Homo sapiens: one gene and its partner. The protein of the gene in region 1 purifies or fractionates together with the protein of each later gene. This does not show direct contact. Each region holds a gene or a part of one and is shown on either strand. Other genes may lie near its edges. The genes, in order: CAPSL and DLGAP5.

Region 1 (12,121 bases):
TTCTAATGCTATCACTTCCCCCTCCCTTCACCCCACAACAGGCACCGGTGTGTGATGTTCCCCTTCCTGTGTCCATGTGTTCTCATTGTTCAATTCCCACCTATGAGTGCGAACATGCGGTGTTTGGTTTTTTGTCCTTGCAATAGTTTGCTGAGAATGATGGTTTCCAGCTTCATCCATGTCCCTACAAAGGACATGAACTCATCATTTTTTATGGCTGCATAGTATTCCATGGTGTATATGTGCCACATTTTCTTAATCCAGTCTATCATTGTTGGACATTTGGGTTGGTTCCAAGTCTTTGCTATTGTGAATAGTGCCACAATAAACATACGTGTGTATGTGTCTTTAGAGCAGCATGATTTATAATCCTTTGGGTATATAACCAGTAATGGGATGGCTGGGTCAAGTGATATTTCTAGTTCTAGATCCCTGAGGAATTGCCACACTGACTTCCACAATGGTTGAACTAGTTTACAGTCCCACCAACAGTGTAAAAGTGTTCCTATTTCTCCACATTCTCTCCAGCACCTGTTGTTTCCTGACTTTTTAATGATCGTCATTCTAACTGGTGTGAGATGGTATGTCATTGTGGTTTTGATTTGCATTTCTCTGATGGCCAGTGATGATGAGCATTTTTTCATATGTCTTTTGGCTGCATAAATGTCTTCTTTTGAGAAGTGCCTGTTCATATCCTTTGCCCACTTTTTGATGGGGTTGTGTGTTTTTTTCTTGTAAATTTGTTTGAGTTCATTGTAGATTCTGGATATTAGCCCTTTGTCAGATGAGTAGGTTGCAAAAATTTTCTCCCCTTCTGTAGGTTGCCTCTTCACTCTGATGGTAGTTACTTTGGCTGTGCAGAAGCTCTTTAGTTTAATTAGATGCCATTTGTCCATTTTGGCTTTTGTCGCCATTGCTTTTGGTGTTTTAGACATGAAGTCCTTGCCCATGCCTATGTCCTGAATGGTATTGCCTAGGTTTTCTTCTACGGTTTTTATGGTTTTAGGTCTAACATGTAAGTCTTTAATCCATCTTGAATTAATTTTTGTGTAAGGTGTAAGGAAGGGATCCAGTTTCAGCTTTCTACATATGGCTAAGCCAGTTTTCCCAGCACCATTTATTAAATAGGCAATCCTTTCCCCATTACTTGTTTTTGTCAGGTTTGTCAAAGATCAGATAGTTGTAGATATGTGGCATTATTTCTGAGGGCTCTGTTCTGTTCCATTGGTCTATATCTCTGTTTTGGTACCAGTACCATGCTGTTTTGGTTACTGTAGCCTTGTAGTATAGTTTGAAGTCAGGTAGCGTTATGCCTCCAGCTTTTTCTTTTGTCTTAGGATTGTCTTGGCAATGTGGGCTCTTTTTTTGGTTCCATATGAACTTTAAAGTAGTTTTTTCCAATTCTGTGAAGAAAGTCGTTGGTAGCTTGATGGGGATGGCATTGAATCTATAAATTACCTTGGGCAGTATGGCCATTTTCAAGATATTGATTCTTCCTACCCATGAGCATGGAATGTTCTTCCATTTGTTTGTATCCTCTTTTATTTCCTTGAGCAGTGGTTTGTAGTTCTCCTTGAAGAGGTCCTTCACATCCCTTGTAAGTTGGATTCCTAGGTATTTTATTCTCTTTGAAGCAATTGTGAATGGGAGTTCACTCATGATTTGCCTCTCTGTTTGTCTGTTATTTGTGTTTAAGAATGCTTGCGATTTTTGCACATTGATTTTGTATCCTGAGACTTTGCTGAAGTTGCTTATCAGCTTAAGAAGATTTTGGGCTGAGACGATGGGGTTTTCTAGATATACAATCATGTCATCTGCAAACAGGGACAATTTGACTTCCTCTTTTCCTAATTGAATACCATTTGTTTCCTGCTCCTGTCTGATTGCTCTGGCCACAACTTCCAACACTATGTTGAATAGGAGTGGTGAGAGAGGGCATCCCTGTCTTGTGCCAGTTTTCAAATGGAATGCTTCCAGTTTTTTGCCGATTCAGTGTGATACTGGCTGTGGGTTTGTCATAGATAGCTCTTATTATTTTGAGATAACGTCCCATCAATACCTAATTTGTTGAGAGTTTTTAGCATGAAGGGTTGTTGAATTTTGTCAAAGGCCTTTTCTGCATCTATTGAGATAATCATGTGGTTTTTGTCGTTGGTTCTGTTTATATGCTGGATTACATTTATTGATTTGCGTATGTTGAACCAGCCTTGCATCCCAGGGATGAAGCCCACTTGATCATGGTGGATAAGCTTCTTGATGTACTGCTGGATTTGGTTTGCCAGTATTTTATTGAGGATTTTTGCATTGATGTTCACCAGGGATATTGGTCTAAAATTCTCTTTTTTGGTTGTGTCTCTGTCCGGCTGTGGTATCAGGATGATGCTGGCCTCCTAAAATAAATTAGGGAGGATTGCCTCTTTTTCTATTGACTGGAATAGTTTCAGAAGGAATGGTACCAGTTCCTCCTTGTACCTCTGGTAGAATTTGGCTGTGAATCCTTCTGGTCCTGGACTGTTTTTGGTTGGTAAGCTATTAATTATTGCCTCAATTTCAGGGTCTGTTATTGGTCTATTCAGAGATTCAACTTCTTCCTAGTTTAGTCTTGGGAGGGTGTGTGTGTTGAGGAATTTATCCATTTCTTCTAGATTTTCTAGTTTATTTGCATAGAAGTGTTTATAGTATTCTCTGATGGTAGTTTGTATTTCTGTGGGATCGGTGGTGATATCCCCTTTATCATTTTTTATTGTGTCTATTTGATTCTTCTCTCTTTTCTTCTTTATTAGTCTTGCTAGAGTTCTATCAATTTTGTTGATCTTTTCAAATAACCAGCTCCTGGATTTAATGATTTTTTGAAGAGTTTTTTGTGTCTCTATTTCCTTGAGTTCTGCTCTGATCTTAGTTATTTCTTGCCTTCTGCTAGCTTTTGAATATGTTTGCTCTTGCTTCTCTAGTTCTTTTAATTGTGACATTAGGGTGTCAATTTTAGATCTTTCCTGCTTTCTCTTGTGGACATTTAGTGCTATAAATTTCCCTCTACACACTGCTTTGAATGTGTCCCAGAGATTCTGGTATGTTGTGTCTTTGTTCTCGTTGGTTTCAAAGAACATCTTTATTTCTGCCTTCATTTCGTTATGTACCCAGTAGTCATTCAGGAGCAGGTTGTTCAGTTTCCATGTAGTTGAGAGGTTTTGAGTGAGTTTCTTAATCCTGAGTTCTAGTTTGATTGCACTGTGGTCTGAGAGACAGTTTGTTATAATTTCTGTTCTTTTACATTTGCTGAGGAGTGTTTTACTTCCAATTATGTGGTCAATTTTGGAATAGGTGTGGTGTGGTGCTGAAAAGAATGTATATTCTGTTGATTTGGGGTGGAGAGTTCTGTAGATGTCTATTAGGTCCGCTTGGTGCAGAACTTAGTTCAATTCCTGGATATCTTTGTTAACTTTCTGTCTCGTTGATCTGTCTAATGTTGACAGTGGGGTGGTAAAGTCTCCCATTATTATTGTGTGGGAGTCTAAGTCTCTTTGTAGGTTTCTAAGGACTTGCTTTATGAATCTGCGTGCTCTTGTATTGGGTGCATATATATTTAGGATAGTTAGCTCTTCTTGTTGAATTGATCCCTTTACCATTATGTAATGGCCTTCTTTGTCTCTTTTTATCTTTGTTGTTTTAAAGTCTGTTTTATCAGAGACTAGGATTGCAACCCCTGCCTTTTTTTGTTTTCCATTTGCTTGGTAGATCTTCCTCCATCCCTTTATTGTGAGCCTGTGTGTGTCTCTGCATTTGAGATGGGTTTCCTGAATACAGCACACTGATGGGTCTTGACTGTTTATCCAATTTCCCAGTCTGTGTCTTTTAACTGGAGCATTTAGCCCATTTACATTTCAGGTTAATATTGTTATCTTTGAATTTGATCCTGTCATTATGATGTTAGCTGGTTATTTTGCTCATTAGTTTATGCCGTTTCTTCATAGCATCGATGGTCTTTACAATTAGGCATGTTTTTGCAGTGGCTGGTACCGGTTGTTCCTTTCCACATTTAGTGCTTCCTTCAGGAGCTCTTTTAGGGCAGGCCTGGTGGTGACAAAATCTCTCAGCATTTGCTTGTCTGTAAAGGATTTTTATTTCTCCTTCACTTATGAAGCTTAGTTTGGCTGGATACGAAATTCTGTGTTGAAAATTCTTTTCTTTTAGAATGTTGAATATTGGCCCCCACTCTCTTCTGGCTTGTAGAGTTTCTGCTGAGAGATCCGCTGTTAGTCTGATGGGCTTCCCTTTGTGGGTAACCTGACCTTTCTCTGTGGCTGCCCTTAACATTTTTTCCTTATTTCCACTTTGGTGAATCTGACAATTATGTGTCTTGGAGTTGCTCTTCTCGAGGACTATCTTTGTGGCATTCTCTGTATTTCCTGAATTTGAATGTTGGCCTGCCTTGCTAGATTGGGGAAGTTCTCCTGGAAAATATCCTGCTGAGTGTTTTCCAACTTGGTTCCTTTCTCCCCATCACTTTCAGGTACACCAATCAGACATAGATTTGGTCTTTTCACATAGTCCCATATTTCTTGGAGGCGTTGTTCATTTCTTTTTGTTCTTTTATCTCTAAACTTCTCTTCTCACTTCATTTCATTCATTTGATCTTCCATCACTGATACCCTTTCTTCCAGTTGATCGAATTGGCTACTGAGGCTTGTGCATTCATCACGTAGTTCTCTTGTCATGGTTTTCAGCTCCGTCAGGTCCTTTAAGGACTTCTCTGCAGTGGTTTTCTAGTTAGACGTTCATCTAATTTTTTTTTCAAGGTTTTTAACTTCTTTGCCATGGGTGCAAACTTCCTCCTTTAGCTCAAGTAGTTTGATCATCTGCAGTCTTCTTCTGTCAACTTGTTAAAGTCATCTCCATCCAGCTTTGTTCCATTGCTGGTGAGGAGCTGTGCTCCTTTGGAGGAGGAGAGGCACTCTGCTTTTTAGAGTTTCCAGTTTTTCTGCTCTGTTTTTTCCCCATCTTTGTGGTTTTATCTACCTTTGGTCTTTGATGATGGTGACATACAGATGAGGTTTTGGTGTGGATGTCCTATCTGTTTGTTAGTTTTCCTTCTAACAGTCAGGAACCTCAGCTGCAGGTCTGTTGGAGTTTGCTGGAGGTCCACTCCAGACCCTGTTTGCCTGGGTATCAGCAGTGGAGGCTGCAGAACAGCAGATATTGGTGAACAGCAAATGTTGCTGCCTGATTGTTCCTCTGGAAGTTTTGTCTCAGAGGAGTACCTGGCCGTGTGAGGTGTCAGTCTGCCCCTACTGGGGGGTGCCTCCCAGTTAGGCTACTCGGGGGTCAGGGACCCACTTGAGGAGGCAGTCTGTCCATTATCAGATCTCAAGCTGCATGCTGGGAGAACCATTACTCTCTTCAAAGTTGTCAGACAGGGACATTTAAATCTGCAGAGGTTTCTGCTGCCTTTTGTTTGGCTATGCCCTGCCCCCAGAGGTGGAGTCTACAGAGGCAGGCAGGCCTCCTTGAGCTGCAGTGAGCTCCACCCAGTTTGAGCTTCCTGGCTGCTTTGTTTACCGTCTCAAGCCTCAGCAATGGTGGGCATCCCTCCCCCAGCCTCGCTGCTGCTTTGCAGTTTGGTCTCAGACTGCTGTGCTGGCAATGAGTGAGGCCCGGTGGGTGTCGGATCCTCCGAGCCAGGTGCAGGATATAATCTCCTGGTGCGCCGTTTGCTAAGACTGTTGGAAAAGCATAGTATTAGGGTGGGACTGACCCGATTTTCCAGGTGCCGTCTGTCACCCCTTTCTTTGACTAGGAAAGGGAATTCCCTGACCCCTTGCGCTTCCTGGGTGAGGCGATGCCTTGCCCTGCTTCAGCTCATGCTTGGTGTGCTGCACCCACTGTCCGACACTCCCCAGTAAGATGAACCTGGTACCTTAGTTGGAAATGCAGAAATCACCTGTCTTCTGCATCGCTCACGCTGGGAGCTGTAGACTGGAGCTGTTCCTATTTGGCCATCTTGCTCCACCCCCTTATTTTTTAAATAGACTACTTTAAAAACCAATGCCAGCACATGATTATTAACTAAGGCCCATAATTTATTCATACTTCCGTAGTTTTTACCTAGTGTCCTTTTCTGTTTCAAGATCTCATCCAGAACTCTGCTTTACATTTACTTGTAATGTTTCCTTAGGATCCTGTTGGTTATGACAGTTTCTCAGACTTTCCTGGTTTTTGATGAATGTGAGAGGTCAAGTATTTTGTAGGATGCCCACCTATTGGAATTTCTCTGATTTTTTTCTTCATGACTAAACTGGGCTTATTATTTTTAGGGACCACAGACATAAAGCACCATTTTTATCACATTATACCAAGGATATGTATGATTAACATGATTTATTACTGTTGATGTTGACACTGATCACCTGATTGAGGTAGTATTTGTCAGACTTCTCCATTGTAAAGTTGCTTCCCTTTTCCCTTTTCCATATCGTACTTTTTGGAAGGAAACCTCTTTGTAGAGCCCACACTTAGAGAGTGGGGAGTATATGTTCCCTCCTTGAGAGGAGAATATATCCATAACTTATTTGGAATTTTTCTGCAAGAGAAATTTGTCATTTTCTTCATCTTTATTTACTCTATCATTTATTTAACCAGTATGGATGTAGGGATTTCTTTTTTATATTTTGGGTTATAATCCAGCATAGTTTTATTGGTTTAATTGTTCCAGCCTTGATCTTGAGAGCTATTTAAGTTGGCTCCTATATCCCTAACATAGCCACATCACTGTGATTTTCTGACTTCCTAAATCATTTTTTTAAAATTGATATGCATTAAGGTTTACACCTTGCTCTGTAAAGTGCTATGGGTTTTAGCAAATGCATAATGTCATGTATCCACCATCATAGTATTATAAAGGATAGTTTCTTTGACCTAAAAATCCCATGTTTCACCAATTCAACTCTTTCCTTTACCTTTCATCTTTTTACTGTCTCCACAGTTTTGTCTTTTGCAGAATGTCATGTAATTAGAATTATACTTTGTGTGTGTGTTTGTGTGTGTGTGGTGGGAAGAGGCTCTCCAGTTTTGGAAAGGAGGGTGCAGAGAAGAATTTAAGACTTTTGTATTTTAATTTGACGAAACCTTGAGTGTGGATTTTTTTTTAATCTTTACACTTACACCTGTTATTTGTACATTTCTTCTGAATTTTTGTGTGTATTTTCTTCAGAGTGTTTAGAATTATGGATGACGATAATAATCGAACCCTTGATTTTAAAGAATTTATGAAAGGGTTAAATGATTATGCTGTGGTCATGGAAAAAGAAGAGGTGGAAGAACTTTTCCGGAGGTTTGATAAAGATGGAAATGGAACAATAGACTTCAATGAATTTCTTCTCACATTAAGAGTAAGTGGCCCCATTAATCAGTGTATCTGCTGAGTTTGGCTTTCACGTGGTTTGGGTTGGCTACCTTGAGGTTTTGTTTTTACAAGTTGTTAGTACACTGTGGGGAGGGGGATAAGCAGAAAACTGTGAACAGACTTAGGAATTTTTGGAGCAATTGTAGTGTCTATTACATAATAGCACACAAATATTATTTCACATCGTTGAGGGGAATGAGATATTTTATCACATAGGATACCAAAAAAGCTCATTTGCTTATGTATGTCTCTGTATGTATTCTTCTATTTTTGTAGCCTCCAATGTCCAGAGCCAGAAAAGAGGTAATCATGCAAGCTTTTAGAAAGTTAGACAAGACTGGAGATGGTGTTATAACAATCGAAGACCTTCGTGAAGTATATAATGCAAAACACCACCCAAAGTACCAGAATGGGGAATGGAGTGAGGAACAAGTATTTAGGAAATTTCTGGATAACTTTGATTCACCCTATGACAAAGATGGATTGGTAAGTAAAAGAGCCTAATCTAGGGGAAATTTCTTCAATTCGAAATTGTAAATGGGAAATAGGTCCAAACTCTTAAAAATGTTAACACATTGATACCATATTTGTTGTAAATAGAAGTAAACTATTTCCCTAGGAACAATCTAGAAACTTCTCCATTGCCAGGGGAAACCTTCATGTTACTTTAGTTGAAACCTAATGTATGTTTGTGCACGCACACACTCATAGACATATATTGAAATATATTGGTAGGGGATCCACATAAGTGATGACCTGTCATCTGGGGAATGTGATGTTCTGATTAAACATGCCATTTTATGGTTACTATATTTACCATACTCAGCTAGTTGCACTCCAGTGAACTGATTATAATAAAATATATTTAACTTTGAAATGAGATCATAATTTAATTTTGGAGAACAGATTTACAAGGCCTTTCAGGATGTTTTAGTGCCTTCACACTCATCCTCATTCATCTTCACACTTTGCTATGTGGAAATGCCATTTAAAGGTAGTTTTTGGTAAAGGGAATGTCAAATAACAGAATTTACTCTGATTTATTCTTTAGTGTGCTTTGAGATTAACTTACATTTCTAAACTGCACTGAATTTGAAAACAAAATCAACCGCCCATCTCCATTAACTTTTATCTTCAAGTTACAAATGCATAGCTTGGTAGGGTAAGGAATTATATAGCTCCATGACTGTGTCTAGGCTGAGATGAAAATGTCATCTGTCCTTTATCAACAGCCCTAAATTGACTTTTTAGAAAAAAAAAAAAAACCCTGAGCCAGTTCTGTTCTTAGATGATCTAAGGGTTTTGGTGATAAGGAAAGGGGATTGTCCCTTGAGTAACAGTCAGCAGCAGCACAGCCCCAGGGTTCATTGTCTCTTAAGCCCTTTACAGCACAGGAAAAGATAAGTGGCCCAGTGGACAAGAAGAGAGTGGTTAAGGGAAGAAGAAATAAACCTTCCTCTTCTGAAGGGAATGTGCTCCAACTTTTTAAATGAAACTTCATGATGAGTCTCATTAGCAAGGGGTGGGGGATAGGAAGGTGACCTTTCTGTTCTTCCTGCTGACATTTCCCTTTCAGGGATGGAGACATACCCTCTATTTCAGGCTGAGGATTGTGGAGGCAGGTTTACAAAAGGGCCAAAATTCAATAGGGCAGCCAAAATCTTAGGGACAGAAATAAAAACTACATGTTTTCTTCCAGTATTGCTGGCCTTGATCACTGAGATGTCAGTGGAAAAATAGCCAACTGCCATTTCCCCAAATTAGCCCACCCCTTTGTGGATCCTAGAGTGTGTCTGCTTCCTCTCTGCAGGTGGTTCCTCCTCATTGCCAGGGGAAACCTCAGCTACCCTTTTCTCTAACAAAAGTCAAAATAGCCAGTTGTGATTCGGCTGATTCAAGTCTGCACATCACCCCTTTTGATATTTATCTTAAGAAGCCACATTAAGCTCTCAAAAGCTCATAAAGGTTATTGAGGTTTTTAGCAGTTATAGCACTTGATGTCATCTGCATGTTACAGACCCTGTATTGATACCCAACTCTGGCTGTTCATAATCATCATCAGGGAGGATTTATTAGTAATGTAGATTCCTAGCTGCACTGCAGAACCACAGAATCTGATTTTTTGGAGGATGGAGTCCAAGGCTTTACATTTTAATGTGTACCAGATGACTCTTACACTCACGTGTATTTGTGATCCTTAGCTCTAAAAGATTCAGAAATAACTGTTTTAAAATTACTAAATATAATATACACATGACCCCATTTAGCATAATAATGAATCTGGGCAACACTTTTTGAGCACATATCAACTGGGCATTTGCTAAGGGCTTACCAGGGATATCTCATTTAATAGACATAATAAAAGTGTTTCTGAAAAGTGATGTGTAATTCAAACTTTCGCACACTGAATTGTATTTTAAATGCACAAGAAATTGTTGTTGTAGAGGAACTCCATGGTAAATTCTTTTATGAGAAGAATAATTAGCTTCTAAAATTTACCTCTTGCAAATTGCACTATTTTGCATATTAAGATTGCTTGTGGTGAAGCATAGCTGTACTTGAAGCCAGTGTGCTCATTTATGGTTAAAAACATCCCATATAAGACAAAATTTAAAATAATGCAAAAAATTTAGCATAGCTCCTAGCTAAAGGTAATGTTCAAACTTGATAATCTAGGTTAAACTCTCAAATACCCATAAAGGTTGCTGGAGTTTCAGCAGTCACGGAATTTGATGTCATAAATCTTGCACTAATACCTCACTGGACTCCCATAGCAGCCGGAAGCCATTTGGATGGAGGTGTGAAGCAATCAGATAACCTGTGACACAGACTTTCCTTACCCCTTTTCTATCACTAAACCCCACCACAATTTGGTGAGACATTTACTTCTTATTCTTTAATATCTAAGTTTTGAATTCTTCATGTGTATATATGACTTTATCATCACTATATTTTTAAAAAGCCTCTTAGGACTTTAGACCTTCAGGGAATATCAGTCTATTGCCTCATCCATCTCATAAAAAATTTTTAAATAATTAAAAATATGTTAGGTATATTACTGAGTGTATGTATTAATAGTAACCTAGATTTGTTTTAGGATTTTTCTGATGAATTTGGAGCTGAGAAAAAGGGCTTGTATTGTGACTTCCATTACCCCCATCTGGGACCTTTCCTTGTATATATGATATATATCTTGTCACATAAAGGTAGCCTAGTCAAGAGGCCTGCTAAAAGTAGGAGTGCCCAGTCTCTCATTTTTTTCTAATGTCAAATAAAATGAATAAGGATAGTGATTATTGCTAACCAACAATTTACTATGATGAGGGCAAATTTACAGGAGATCAGAGAATTTGCGATTCAGGCCATTCCCAATATAAGTTGAGTCTCAGAAAACAAGCAAACACCTAGCTAAGAGTAACTGATGGCTTTTTCTGAAATGATCAAATACATTAGCTCTGACCTCTGGCTTGACGTCATCTGACTTCCAAGTGAGGTTTAATGCTTCCTTTATCTTTTGCCCATCTTGGATTCCTTCTCCATTCTCCAACAGAGCCAACTCAACTCAGGTCACCCCATCCCACTGGGGGAGTTTGGGATGGAAGGATGGGTGACGATACCAGTCTCAATCATGTATTGGTGTTTCAGTTAGGGTTTGCTTTCAATTGCAAGAAATAGGAAATCTTATTATACACTGGAATACACAAATTAGGTTTTATTTTTTATTCTACTTGATGTTCTCACTTGAGTGGCTTAAAGAGAGCAGAGCTGAAGTCTTTGTGATTTTCCTGGCCTTTCCTTCATGATCTCAAGATGGTTGCCTAACTTCAGCCAGCACATCTGAGTTTCAGGCAGCAGGACAAAGGAGGGAGAAGGAGGGAACGAGAAAGGGCTGGAGCCTGCATCAGGAAAGCAAAGGCTTCCCTAGAAATTCATGTCAAATTTCCTTTGTATCTTATTGGTGAGAACTCTATTACTTGGCCATCCCAAGCTGAAGCTGCAGAGGAGTCTGGGAAAGTGAGTTTTGAGTTTTTCAACTTCTGTGGGAGAGAAAAGCTAGGGATAGGATTATTACAGTGGATGTGGAGGGAGTCTCATTCAATGGCTGTCATCCCTGGCCAACAAACAGACAATAGAAACAATAACAAACTAAAAATATCGGGAGTTTGATAATTTTTAATTAAAAAATAATTAGCTGTAAAAAATGTTCCTCAAACTGTCATGGTAAAGTGCACCGTCAAAATGGCTCAGGGTCTCGTGGGTAACTCTTTTAGTTTACTTGCTATTTGCTGTAAAATGATCCACTTACTTTGTTGGAGTATTTCACCAGCCTGCAACTTTTTGAGGACTGAGACTTTATCTTAATTATCTTTGATATTCCCAGTTAAATTACTGTAGTGTGCACAACAATTAACTGGGATGTTTAGATTTTTAAGAAGTAAATTCCACAACCACCTGCTTCAGAGATTCTGATTTAGCAGGTGTGGGGTACAGCCTGTGGGCCTAGGCTTATGACAGACACCCCAGGTTGTCCTGATGCAGGTGGTGTGGACCCACACTGATAAACATTTCCCTGGAACCTCACACAACATGAGAAAGATAGAAAGAGGGCAATAATGATGTGTGAAACTTAATGTAATCCCTTAATGAGGGAATTGAAAAGCAGAGGCTGAGGAATCCAAAGGAGGAGAGGAATAAAGAAGTTCAACAAAGGGGGATGCTAAT
Region 2 (12,121 bases), on another chromosome or scaffold:
GTCTTGCTTTGTTACTCAAGCTGAACTTGAACTCCTGGGCTCAAATGATCCTTCCACCTCAGCCTTCCCAGTAGATGGGACTACAGGTGTGTTACTGTGCCTGGCTTATTGAAAGCCTTTTTTTTTTTCTTGAGACGGAGTCTTGCTCTGTTGCTTAGGCTGGAGTGCAGGGGCGCAATCTTGGCTCACTGCAACCTCCATCTCCTGGGTTCAAGCAATTCTCCTACCTCAACCTCCCGAATAGCTGGGATTACAGGTGACCGCCACCACACCCAGCTAATTTTTGAATTTTTAGTAGAGATGGGATTTCACCACGTTGGCCAGGCTGGTCTCAAACTCCTGACCTCAGATGATCCGCCCTCCTCAGCCTCCCAAAGTGCTGGGATTACAGGCGTGAGCCACCGTGCCTGGCCTGAAAGCATTTTTTAGCAGCAGTTGAAATGACACAAAAATAATTGTTTATACATTTGCATAACTTTTCATCTGAAATGTTTTATATACTGTGTGGTTTTGGTTTTTTTTCTGCCTAGGGGCAATGAAAACTATTCTAGGTGATCAACGAAAACAGATGCTCCAAAAATACAAAGAAGAAAAGCAACTTCAAAAATTGAAAGAGCAGAGAGAGAAAGCTAAACGAGGAATATTTAAAGTGGGTCGTTATAGACCTGATATGCCTTGTTTTCTTTTATCAAACCAGAATGCTGTGAAAGCTGAGCCAAAAAAGGTAAATTTAGTGTCTTAATATAAAGGAATAGTTTCTTTTATTTGGTATTTTCTTCAAGACATTAAGTGACTAACCCCTTTCCCTTAGTCTCATTATTAACTGGTTGGTAGAAGGTGGGAATGACATAATAGTAGCTCAGAAGAATGAAAATCAGGTCTCTTAAGATAGCTGTAGGTAAGTTGAGATAGGATAAAACTAGGAAAATTGGTAGAATCAGGCTGAACAATGTTATGCAAAGGATTTGGTGTTTATCCTGTAGGTTTTGCAGAATCAGGAGAAGTTTATAAATAAGGGTAGTGCCGTTGTCAAATTAATAATTCAGGAAAATACCATAGCCCTAAAGATTTTAGTCTGGAAAGGGAAGCATTTATAGATAGGGAGACCAATTGTGAGACTATTGTAATAGAATAGATGGAAAGGGGCAGTGGGTTTTAAAAGGAAAAAATAGGTGTAAGACATCTAAATAAAGGCATTTGACAGGACTGGTGGCCAAGTAGATGGTGAGGGGTAAAGGAAATTGAAAAAGCAGAGAGAAGCTCTGCTGCTAAAAGAGATAAGGAAGATAAGGAACAAGCTTAAGTGGGTGCATGTTAATAACCTTTTTAAAAATCTTAAACTTGTGTGGGCCACCTAGATATTAGTAAAAATTTGGAAAGAAGGATGGAAATTGGTGCTAAGATGTCGATTTAGGATATAATATTGGGAATATGGATGAGTGTTTAAGCTGTAGGACTAAATGAGACCATTCCAATAAGGATATATAAAATTATGAAAAAGTGGGCTCTAGAGAGCACTTTTAGGTAGGCAGAAGCCAGGTACCAGGCTGAGGACTGGTCAGAGAGGCAGGAGAACTAAGAGAGGATAGAAGCTCATATTAATGATGATTCCAATACCTGGAAAATACGGTTTGAAATTTCTTTCTCACTGAGAAATGTGAGTAATTTTTGAAGTTACTAACTTAATTTAAATCAAGCTAGAACCAGAAAAAGGAATTTAAGTATCTTTTTGCTATAAGAGATTAAGGATAAAATTTAACTTTAAAATGGGAACTTTATTTTGTAATAAGATATGGAAGTAAACCTTTACCAGTTCATATTTTAAGTTCATCTTCTTTTGACTGTTCTAAGGCTATTCCATCTTCTGTACGGATTACAAGGTCAAAGGCCAAAGACCAAATGGAGCAGACTAAGGTATAGTTGATAGTAGATAATTGTTACTAAAATGATAAATTGCACTTTTTTAGTAAGTAAATTCATTTTAAATCTAGTATCAGATTCAAACATAATGATTAATTTACTAGAGTTAACAGGTACCAAAGTCACTGTTTTTAGTATGGTGATGTAGAGCAATTTCACTTAAAATATTTGCTCCAACATTCCGTATGAGATCCATGGCAAACTGTCTTTGTGTCACACTCTTGTTTTGTTTAGTGGGCTCCTATTATGCATTCCAAGTTACCTGCATGAAATGCATATGGGGAGGAAAGCACACAGGGTAGGTGTTATAAACTTACGGGTCTTCAAAATACTGTAATAGAGATATCAGGAGGGTTACTAAAACAAAGTGAAGTGGGCAAGAAGGGAAATAATATGCCTCTTTATCAGGTGAGGAAGCTAAGTTCCACGTATGCATATATATTTTGCATTGCTATGATGTTCCTGGTGTTGTAGGCTTTTGGATATAATAAACTAAATTCTCTTTGTGGAACTTACATGTAAGGCATTTAAAAAAATACATAATATGCCAGAAGATGATAAGTATTATGGAAGAGATTTTAAAAAGGGGAGATGGGGTGTACTAGAAATAGGTATGGGGTAGAATTTTGATTGGGCAGTTAAGGAAGGCCTCCCTGAGATGAAAGCCTTTTGAGTGAAGTCATTATGGAAGTGGAGAAGAGAACCATGGGAAAGCGCTTTTTATCCAGGAGAAGTATTTTCTAGGCAAAATTAAAAGGTCTTGAAGTGAAAGTATGTCTAGGAGTGTTTAAGGACCTTCAGAAGGCAAGTTATAGTGAGCTGTTTTTAATAGCTTGGGTTATTAGCATTTTCCAAATTCTGTGATTGTGAAAAAGGATGTAAGCTTTTTTGGAAGCTTAATGGAAAGCTTTTCTTTATCTCATTTTATTTGGGGTAGTTTTTTGTTGTTGTTGTTGGGTCATTTACGATGATCAGATTTCATATGAGGAATCAATTTACAGATTAAAAATATGATGGTCTGATTCATTATGCAATTAAATCACATAGCACCTAATCTCTTAAATAGATTGATAACGAGAGTGATGTTCGAGCAATCCGACCTGGTCCAAGACAAACTTCTGAAAAGAAAGTGTCAGACAAAGAGAAAAAAGGTAGGAATATTAGCAATTACTATAAATCCTCTGAGGCTACCACAGCCATAATTTTTTTTAAGTGTCTTGAAGGTCAACTGGAATTTGTTCGTTTGTTTGTGACAGAGTCTTGCTCTGTTGCCCAGGTTGGAGTGCAGTGGCACAATCATAGCTCACTGGAGCCTCCACCTCCTGGGCTCAAGTGATCCTCCCACCTCAGCCTCCTGAGTAGCTGCAACTACAGACTTGCCACCATGCCCAGCTGATTTTTATATTTTTTGTAGAGACGGGGTCTCACTATGTTGCCTAGGCTGGTTTCGAACTCCTGGGCTGAAGTAATCCTCCTGCCTCCCAAGTAGCTGGGACTACAGGCATTGCACTACCATGCCTGGCTTCACAGCAATAATTTCATAACTACAAGGGACATTTGATGTAGTTATTTTTTTTTCCCACAGTTGTGCAGCCTGTAATGCCCACGTCGTTGAGAATGACTCGATCAGCTACTCAAGCAGCAAAGCAGGTTCCCAGAACAGTCTCATCTACCACAGCAAGAAAGCCAGTCACAAGAGCTGCTAATGGTGAGAACTATTCCTTGATCAGTGACTGAACTAGAATGTTTGGTCCTTGAGGTTTTTGTGTTCCGTTTCAAAAATCAACAAGTACTTCTTTGAGTAGGAGAGAAGGAAACAGGAAATTCTAATACCTGAAAATAGATTCTGTGCCCTGACATCTGGTTAGCACACAATGGGTGCCCAATCATTGAAGACCTTAATTAGTATAAGCAGTGTTTCAAAGTGAAAAATTAATGGTCCGAGTAAATCACAGTTCATTTATTTGGTGCAATACAACGTAGCCATTAAGAATAATATTATTAAAGAACACTTAATGACATGGTTCATGATATATTAAGTGGGCAAAGAAAAGCAGGTCAAACTCTGAACAGTAGGATCGCAGTTCTAAAAAGCATTATGGGAATATGTGGACATAGGACTGGAAAACCATACCCTGAAGTGACAGCTGAGTAATGGAATCCTGGGTGATTTGTCATTATTGTTCTTTGTAGTTTTCTGTTATTTTTCTAATTGTCTGTAATAAATATGTACAGGCTGAGCAACCCTAATCAAAACATCCAAAATTCTGAGCATTGACATGAAGTTCAAAGGTCATCCTCAAAGGAAATGCTCTTGGAGCATTTCAGATTTTAGATATTTGTATCAAGTATGCTGAACCTGTAAGTATAATGTAAATATTCCAAAATCTGGAATCTAAAATATCTCTGGTCCCAAGCATTTTGGATAAGGGATACTCAATCTGTATTTGGTATTCAGATGAAAAGGGTAAAACACTCTGGTTTTGAAAAGAGATGGTTTGTATTTGGCAGGAAATTCCATAACCCTTTTTATAATATGGCTTTTAATAAAAAAATCCTTCAAGACATATATTCCTACTGTTGCTTCTTTTCCTTTCCCAAGTTACCTAGTATTTTCATGTAGCATTTCTATCTAGTAAAATAAATATTTTATTGTTGTTTTAGAAAACGAACCAGAAGGAAAGGTGCCAAGTAAAGGAAGACCTGCCAAAAATGTAGAAACAAAACCCGACAAGGTAGAGAATAAACATCTTTTTAATTCTAGATGCTTTGAAAATCTCATTGCTACTTTCATAAAGTTGAAATTAAACATAAAGAACTGCTTCAAAAGGTTAACCTACATGTGTGTTAAAACTTCCTGAACCATAAGAAAGCATCAAGAGGATTTACTCTTGTTATTTTTCAGGTATCTTATTTTCAGAGCTTTATAGGTAGAGAAAGCATAATTTTGTTAGAAGATGGAGAAAAATAATAAAAACACAGCTGAGAGAAACCTGTATGTGGGAATTAGCCAAGACATAGGGTGAAGTGGGGTGAAATGCATTGACTTTGGATTCATTTAGGCCTGGGTTTGAATACTCTCTCTGCTTCCAATTAGTTGCATAACCCTGGGCAAGTTATGTAGTTTATGAGCTTCTTTTCTTATTCCTAACATGGAATACCTGCATAGAGTAGTTGTAAGAATTAAATAAACTAAAATTTCTGCCTGCATCTAGCATGGTTTCTAATAAGGTCTTCAAAAAAGATGCCCCATTTGAGGACCCAACCCCTTGGCCTATAATCTATGATATAGTTTATTTTCTTTTATTTTATTTTTTGAGACAGAGTCTCACTCTGTCGCCCAGGCTCGAGTGCAATGGCGCGATCTTGGCTCACTGCACCTTCCGCTCCCCGGGTTCAAGTGATTCTCCTGCCTCAGCCTCCCGAGTAGTTGGGATTACAGACGTGCACCACCACGCCCATCTGATTTTTGTATTTTTAGTAGAGACGAGGTTTCACCATGTTGGCCAGGCTGGTCTTGAACTCCCGACCTCAGGTGATCCACCTACTTCGGCCTCCCAAAGTGCTGGGATTACAGGCGTGAGCCACCACGCCTGGCCAGTATAATTTCTTAATTTAAAAAAAGTACCAAAGATTAAGTAACCTGGCTAGATTCTTAGTAAAAAATCAAACACAGATCAAGAAAGGAAACACACAGTGAATCTTCACAGATAAAGCAGCTGGACCTTATAGGTCCCCCCTTAAGATTAACCCTTAAGGATTATCACTAGTTTTTGCTTTGACTGCCATGCTGGCTTCAACAGTGTTACCACTTAAACTCTTGTCCAGGTTGAAATACCTGGGTTTGAGTTCATATCTTATTAAAAATCAGAAACCTGGAAACCTCTAGAAATTATTTAAATACCAAGTAACAAATTGACTTGAAATAGTAAATATGCTTTGTATTTTATATGGTTAATCTTTTGTGTCACATTGAAAGTATTGCTCTTGTGTTAAGGTTATTTATAATCTAAGGTTATTTAACTTAAGAATTTGGTCCTTAATGATAGTCATTCCATAATGTTAGATTTCTGATTTTAAACCATTGTAATTATCAACATAATTTTTTTTTTGAGACAGAGTCTCGCTCTGTCGCCCAGGCTGAAGTGCAGTGACACGATCTCGGCTCACTGCAAGCTCCACCTCCCGGTTTCTCACCATTCTCCTGCCTCAGCCTCCCAAGTAGCTGGGACTATAGGCGCCTGCCACCACGCCCCAATAATTTTTTGTATTTTTAGCAAAGACGGGGTTTTGCTGTGTTAGCCAGGATGGTCTCGATCTCCCGACCTTGTGATCCGCCCGCCTCAGCCTCCCAAAGTGCTGGGATTACAGGCATGAGCCACCGTGCCTGGCCGTAATTATCAACATAATTTAAGTAAAAAGATACGTATTTGTTGAATAAGTTTTTCCATATTAATTTTCCATTATCTTTTAATTTGTTGTAATACCCAAAAGGTATTAGTTAGTCTTTAAATAAGAATTGGTTCGGGGTGGGTGCGGTGGCTCCCGCCTGTAATCCCAGCACTTTGGGAGGCCTAGGCGGGCGGATGACGAGGTCAGGAGATTGAGACCATCCTGGCTAACACAGCGAAACCCCGTCTCCACTAAAAATACAAAAAATTAGCCGGGCGTGGTGGCGGGCGTCTGTAGTCCCAGCTACTTGGGAGGCTGAGGCAGGAGAATGGCGTGAACCCGGGAGGCGGAGCTTGCAGGGAGCCGAGATCGCGCGACTGCACTCCAGCCTGGGCGACGGAGGGCTACTCCGTATCAAAAAAAAAAAAAAGATTCTATTCCCGGGTAATAGCAATGGATTTAGCGTAACTGGTCTTCTGATTCCATGTATACACTTAATTGTATCTGTTTTTGTCTCTCAAATTATGTACATAGAACATATATTTCTGTTGTCATATTTTCAGACCTATAAAAATTGGTTGAATATATCCTCAGAAGAGAGAAATCTTACTCTACTTTGTTAACTCACATCCTAGGGTATTTCTTGTAAAGTCGATAGTGAAGAAAATACTTTGAATTCACAAACTAATGCAACAAGTGGAATGAATCCAGATGGAGTCTTATCAAAAATGGAAAACTTACCTGAGATAAATACTGCAAAAATAAAAGGGAAGAATTCCTTTGCACCTAAGGATTTTATGTTTCAGCCACTGGATGGTCTGAAGACCTATCAAGTAACACCTATGACTCCCAGAAGTGCCAATGCTTTTTTGACACCCAGTTACACCTGGACTCCTTTAAAAACAGAAGTGTAAGAATATGATCTTAATAATAAGTCTCTTGCTAAGATGGGTAATAAATGCCTTTCTTTTTTTTTTTTTTTTTTTTTTTTTTTTCAGACGGAGTTCGCTCTGTCGCCCAGGCTGGAGTGCAGTGGCGTGATCTCCCCTCACTGTAAGCTCCGCCACCCGGGTTCACGCCATTCTTCTGCCTCAGCCTCTCAAGTAGCTGGGACTACAGGCGCCCGTCACCACGCCCGGCTAATTTTTTGTATCTTTAGTAGAGACGGGGTTTCACCATGTTAGCCAGGATGGTCTCGATCTCCTGACCTCGTGATCCGCCCGCCTCGGCCTCCCAAAGTGCTGGGATTACAGGCGTGAGCCACCGCGCCCGGCCAAATGTCTTTCTTATATTTGGTCTATGCTCTTAAAAAGTTATTATTAGTGAACTGTGTTAATTAGGAATCATGCAATTTTTTTCTTTAAAAAAAATTCTTCAGAAGGTACAATAATGTAATTGACAGTTTTTATATTTCCTATGCATTGTTATTTTCACTATACAATTTGGGTTTTTTGTTTTTAATAAATGACTTAATTATAACACATACATTTTTCAAAAGAAGAAAATTGCTATACTGCTTTAGCTCAGATACGACTTTTTCCTCATTTTCTTCTGGCTTAGTATTTAGAAAAACTGGCCCTGAAGACAAAAATGATTAATTTGCAAAACAAGGGAAAAATCAGTTGGAACCTTTAAAAGAAAAGGCAAGATCATTTTGCAAAGACTGGCTGGCAGCAAATATACTAAAAACTGCTCAGCAGCATCTAAGACTGTTAAGTGTTTATGTTCCATTAAGAAATCTTCAAAATCTTTGAATCTGATTACAATTAATTAGTAAAAATGGACATTCACACTATAGGTGTTTACATTTTCTCCCCTCCAGAATACACATTTTAAAAAAATAGAAACATTTCTATTTTAGCCCAGATCTACAAGTGACACAATTTTGAAACCCTTTATATTAGATATATGGAGTTCATGTTTCATGAAGTATATTTTTGCTATTGTTTTTAGTGATGAGTCTCAAGCAACAAAAGAAATTTTGGCACAAAAATGTAAAACTTACTCTACCAAGACAATACAGCAAGATTCAAATAAATTGCCATGTCCTTTGGGTCCTCTAACTGTTTGGCATGAAGGTATAGTATTTAATTAATTTATTCATTTTTTAGAATAATGTTAATACAAAAAATATTTTGCTTTCAGGTATAGTAATTACATTTTTACTTTTCTGGATTATTACTTGTCAGATTTGTTTGGAGCTCTTTTTCACCATATCATTTGGGGATGTGAACTCAGGGTCAGAAAAGACGGGAAAGCATGGGTAAAGATATCTGAAGAGAATATTGGAATGAAGAATACAGACAGAAGAGGGGAAATAAATGTAAATTTAAAGAAAAAATATTGAGAGCTACTTTAGAGGAAATGTGAAGTGATTGAGGCAGAAATAAAATTTTAAAATTAAACATTGAAAAGGATTTTTAAAATGTCTTTTTAGGGGCTGTCATTTTAGGAATTGTTGCTTTGAAATTTATATGTAAGATTTTCTTTAATTTATAGAACATGTTTTAAATAAAAATGAAGCTACTACTAAAAATTTAAATGGCCTTCCAATAAAAGAAGTCCCATCACTTGAAAGAAATGAAGGTCGAATTGCTCAGCCCCACCATGGTGTGCCATATTTCAGGTATGTCTGTGTGTTTCTAGTGTAAGAATTTTGTATTAATATCTAGACATTTAAAACCAAAACTAAAAATTTTTAACCTTAATATAGTGGGGGAAAACTGGTGTTAGGTGATTTTCACGTTTAAATTTTAATTATTTTTTTGATAACTAGTACATTCATGTGGTTCCTAATTCAAAGGGTAGGAAAAGGTACAAGTGAGAAGACTTCTTCTCAGCACTGTGACCCAACCACATAGTTTGAACCTTTCATGAAGGCAAGTGTTACTCATTTCTTGTGAATACTTCCATGGATAGTTCATGCATATGTAGACAAATATAACATGTACATTTTTTTCTTTTTTAAAAAATATGGACAATAGGCTGGGCGCGGTGGCTCACGCCTGTAATCCCAGCACTTTGGGAGGCCGAGGTGGGTGGATCACAAGGTCAAGAAATCGAGACCATCCTGTCTAACATGGTGAAACCCCATCTCTACTAAAACTGTAAAAATTATCCGGGCGTGGTGGTGCACGCCTGTAGTCCCAGCTACTCATGAGGCTAAGGCAGGAGAATTGCTTGAACCTGGGAGGCGGAGGTTGCAGTTAGCCAAGATTGCACCACTGCACTCCAGCCTGGCAACAGAGTGAGACTCCATCTCAAAATATATATATATCTATATACATATATATATCGGGGAATCTGCCCTGATATTCACGTAGGTTCTTTTCTGTTTTCCTTAAGCATTGGCCAGCTTGAGAAGTAAAGGGACAGAGTACAAAAAGAAATTTTAAAGCTGGGCATCCGGGGGAGACATCACATGTCGGTAGGTTCCGTGATGCCCCACAAGCTGCAAAAACCAGCAAGTTTTTATTAGGGATTTTCAAAAGGGGAGGGAGTGTGCGAATAGGTGTGGGTCACAGACATCAAGTACTTTACAAGGTAATAGAATATCACAAGGCAAGTGGAGGCAGGGTGAGATCACGGGACCAGGGCGAAATTAAAATTGCTAAATGAAGTTTCGGGCACCATTGTCATTGATAACATCTTATCAGGAGACAGGGTTTTGAGATCAACCAGTCTGACCAAAATTTATTAGGCGGGAATTTCCTCTTCCTAATAAGCCTGGGAGCGCTATGGGAGACTGGGGTCTATTTCACCCCTGCAGTTTCGACAGTAAGAGACGGCCACGCCCAGGGGGCCAGTTAAGAGACCCACCCCCAGGTGCGCATTCTCTTTCTCAGGGATGTTCCTTGCTGAGAAAAAGAATTCAGTGATATTTCTCCCATTTGCTTTTGAAAGAAGAGAAATATGGCTCTGTTCCGCCCGGCTCACCGGCGGCCAGAGTTTAAGGTTATCTCTCTTATTCCCTGAACAATCGCTGTTATCCTGTTTTTTCAAGGTGCCCACATTTCATATTGCTCAAACACACATGCTGTACAATTTGTGCAGTTAATACAGTTATTACAGGGTCCTGAGGTGACATACATCCTCCTCAGCTGACAGGATTAAGAGATTAAAGTAAGTAAAGACAGGCATAGGAAATCACAAGGGTATTGACTGGGGAAGTGATAAGTGTCCATGAAATCTTTACAATTTATATTTAGAGATTGCAGTAAAGACAGGCATAAGATATTACAAAAGTATTAATTTGGGGAACTAATAAATGTCCATGAAATCTTCATAATCCACGTTCTTCTGCCATGGCTTCAGCCAGTCCCTCCGTTTGGGGTCCCTGACTTCCTGCAACATGTATATATATATATAGAGAGAGAGAGAGAGACAACATATATCTATAGAGAGAGACAATATCATACAATACACACTATTCTGTTTGCAAATCAAATAGATGAGAAGTAAGTATCTCATTATAGTTTTACTATTCATTTGTTCTATTATAAATATACTTTTTGAGAGTGACTTCATTTCTTTCTTTTCTTTTGTTTTGAAATGGTTGCACTCTGTTGCCCAGGCTGGAGTACAGTGATGTGATCTCAGCTCACCGCAGCCTCTCTGTCCTGAGCTCAAGCCATCCTCCTGCCAGTGGGTGGCTAATTTTGGTGTGTGTGTGTTTTTTTTTTTGTTTTTTTTTTTTTTTGTAGAGACGGGGGTCTTATGATATTGCCCAAGCTGGTCTCGAACTCACAGGCTCAAGCGATCCTTTTGCCTCAGCCTCCCATACTGTTAGGATTACAGGCATGAGCCACTATGTCCAGCTTAATTTCTTTTTTAGAGCACTGGGTTTTAGAATTATAAGGGATTTTAGAGGTAGCTAATCCATTGTGTCATTCCACTGAGTTATTGAAATATTAAGCAATCTACCTAACTAGATAATGTCAGAACTAAACCATTTCTGCTATCTCTTCTTTTTTTTTTTTTTTTTTTTTTTGAGACGGAGTCTCGCTCTGTTGCCCAGGCCGGAGTGCAATGGCGCGATCTTGGCTCTTTGCAACCTCTGCCTCCCAGGTTCAAGCAATTCTCAGGCCTCAGCCTCCTGAGTAGCCAGGATTACAGGCGTGTGCCACCACACCCAGCTAATGTTTATATTTTTAGTAGAGACGGGGTTTCACCATGTTGGTCAAGCTGGTCTCGAACTCCTGACCTTGTGATCCGCTTGCCTCAGCCTCCCAAAGTGCTGGTATTACAGGCGAGAGCCACCGTGCCCGACCCTCTGCCTCCTTATTAATCGTCATGTTGTGTCATTGAATATGAACAACTCAAATTTTTTGTTTTTGTTTCTGTTTTTTGAGACAGGGTCTCACTCTGTCACCCAGGCTGGAGTGCAGTGTCTCGCTCTTGGCTCACTGCAGCCTTGACTTCCCGACCTCCCACCTCAGCCTCCTGAGGAGCTGGGACTATGTCTGTTTCTAGCGTAAGAATTTTGTATTTAAAAAAAATAAAAATAAAGAATTTTGTACTAATATCTAGACATTTAAAACCAAAACTAAAATATTTATAACCTTAATACAGTGGAGGGAAACTGATGTTAGGTGATTTTCATTTATCTTTTAAATACTTTTTTTTTTTTTTGTATTTTTTTTTTTAAGTAGAGATTGGTTTTCGCCATGTTTCCCAGGCTGGTCTGGAACTCCTAGGCTCAAGTGATCTGCCTGCCTCAGCCTCACAAAGTGCTGGCTGGAATTACAGGCATGAGCCACTGAGTCTGGCCCTAAATTTTTTTTTTTTTTTTTAAAGAAACAAAACCTGC

What was found.
Region 2: the proteins of CAPSL (region 1) and DLGAP5 purify together in Homo sapiens (co-immunoprecipitation; 2 studies listed by BioGRID and IntAct, with this or other methods). This does not show direct contact.

Annotation. Positions count from the first base shown.
Region 1 is NC_000005.10:35,905,630-35,917,750, reverse strand, and holds part of CAPSL (calcyphosin-like protein), read left to right. Parts: intron 1-7,207; coding exon 7,208-7,385; intron 7,386-7,675; coding exon 7,676-7,885; intron 7,886-12,121.
Region 2 is NC_000014.9:55,172,163-55,184,283, reverse strand, and holds part of DLGAP5 (disks large-associated protein 5), read left to right. Parts: intron 1-530; coding exon 531-724; intron 725-1,851; coding exon 1,852-1,914; intron 1,915-2,986; coding exon 2,987-3,071; intron 3,072-3,505; coding exon 3,506-3,628; intron 3,629-4,584; coding exon 4,585-4,655; intron 4,656-6,947; coding exon 6,948-7,222; intron 7,223-8,265; coding exon 8,266-8,390; intron 8,391-8,811; coding exon 8,812-8,938; intron 8,939-12,121. UniProt on the Homo sapiens protein: Potential cell cycle regulator that may play a role in carcinogenesis of cancer cells. Mitotic phosphoprotein regulated by the ubiquitin-proteasome pathway.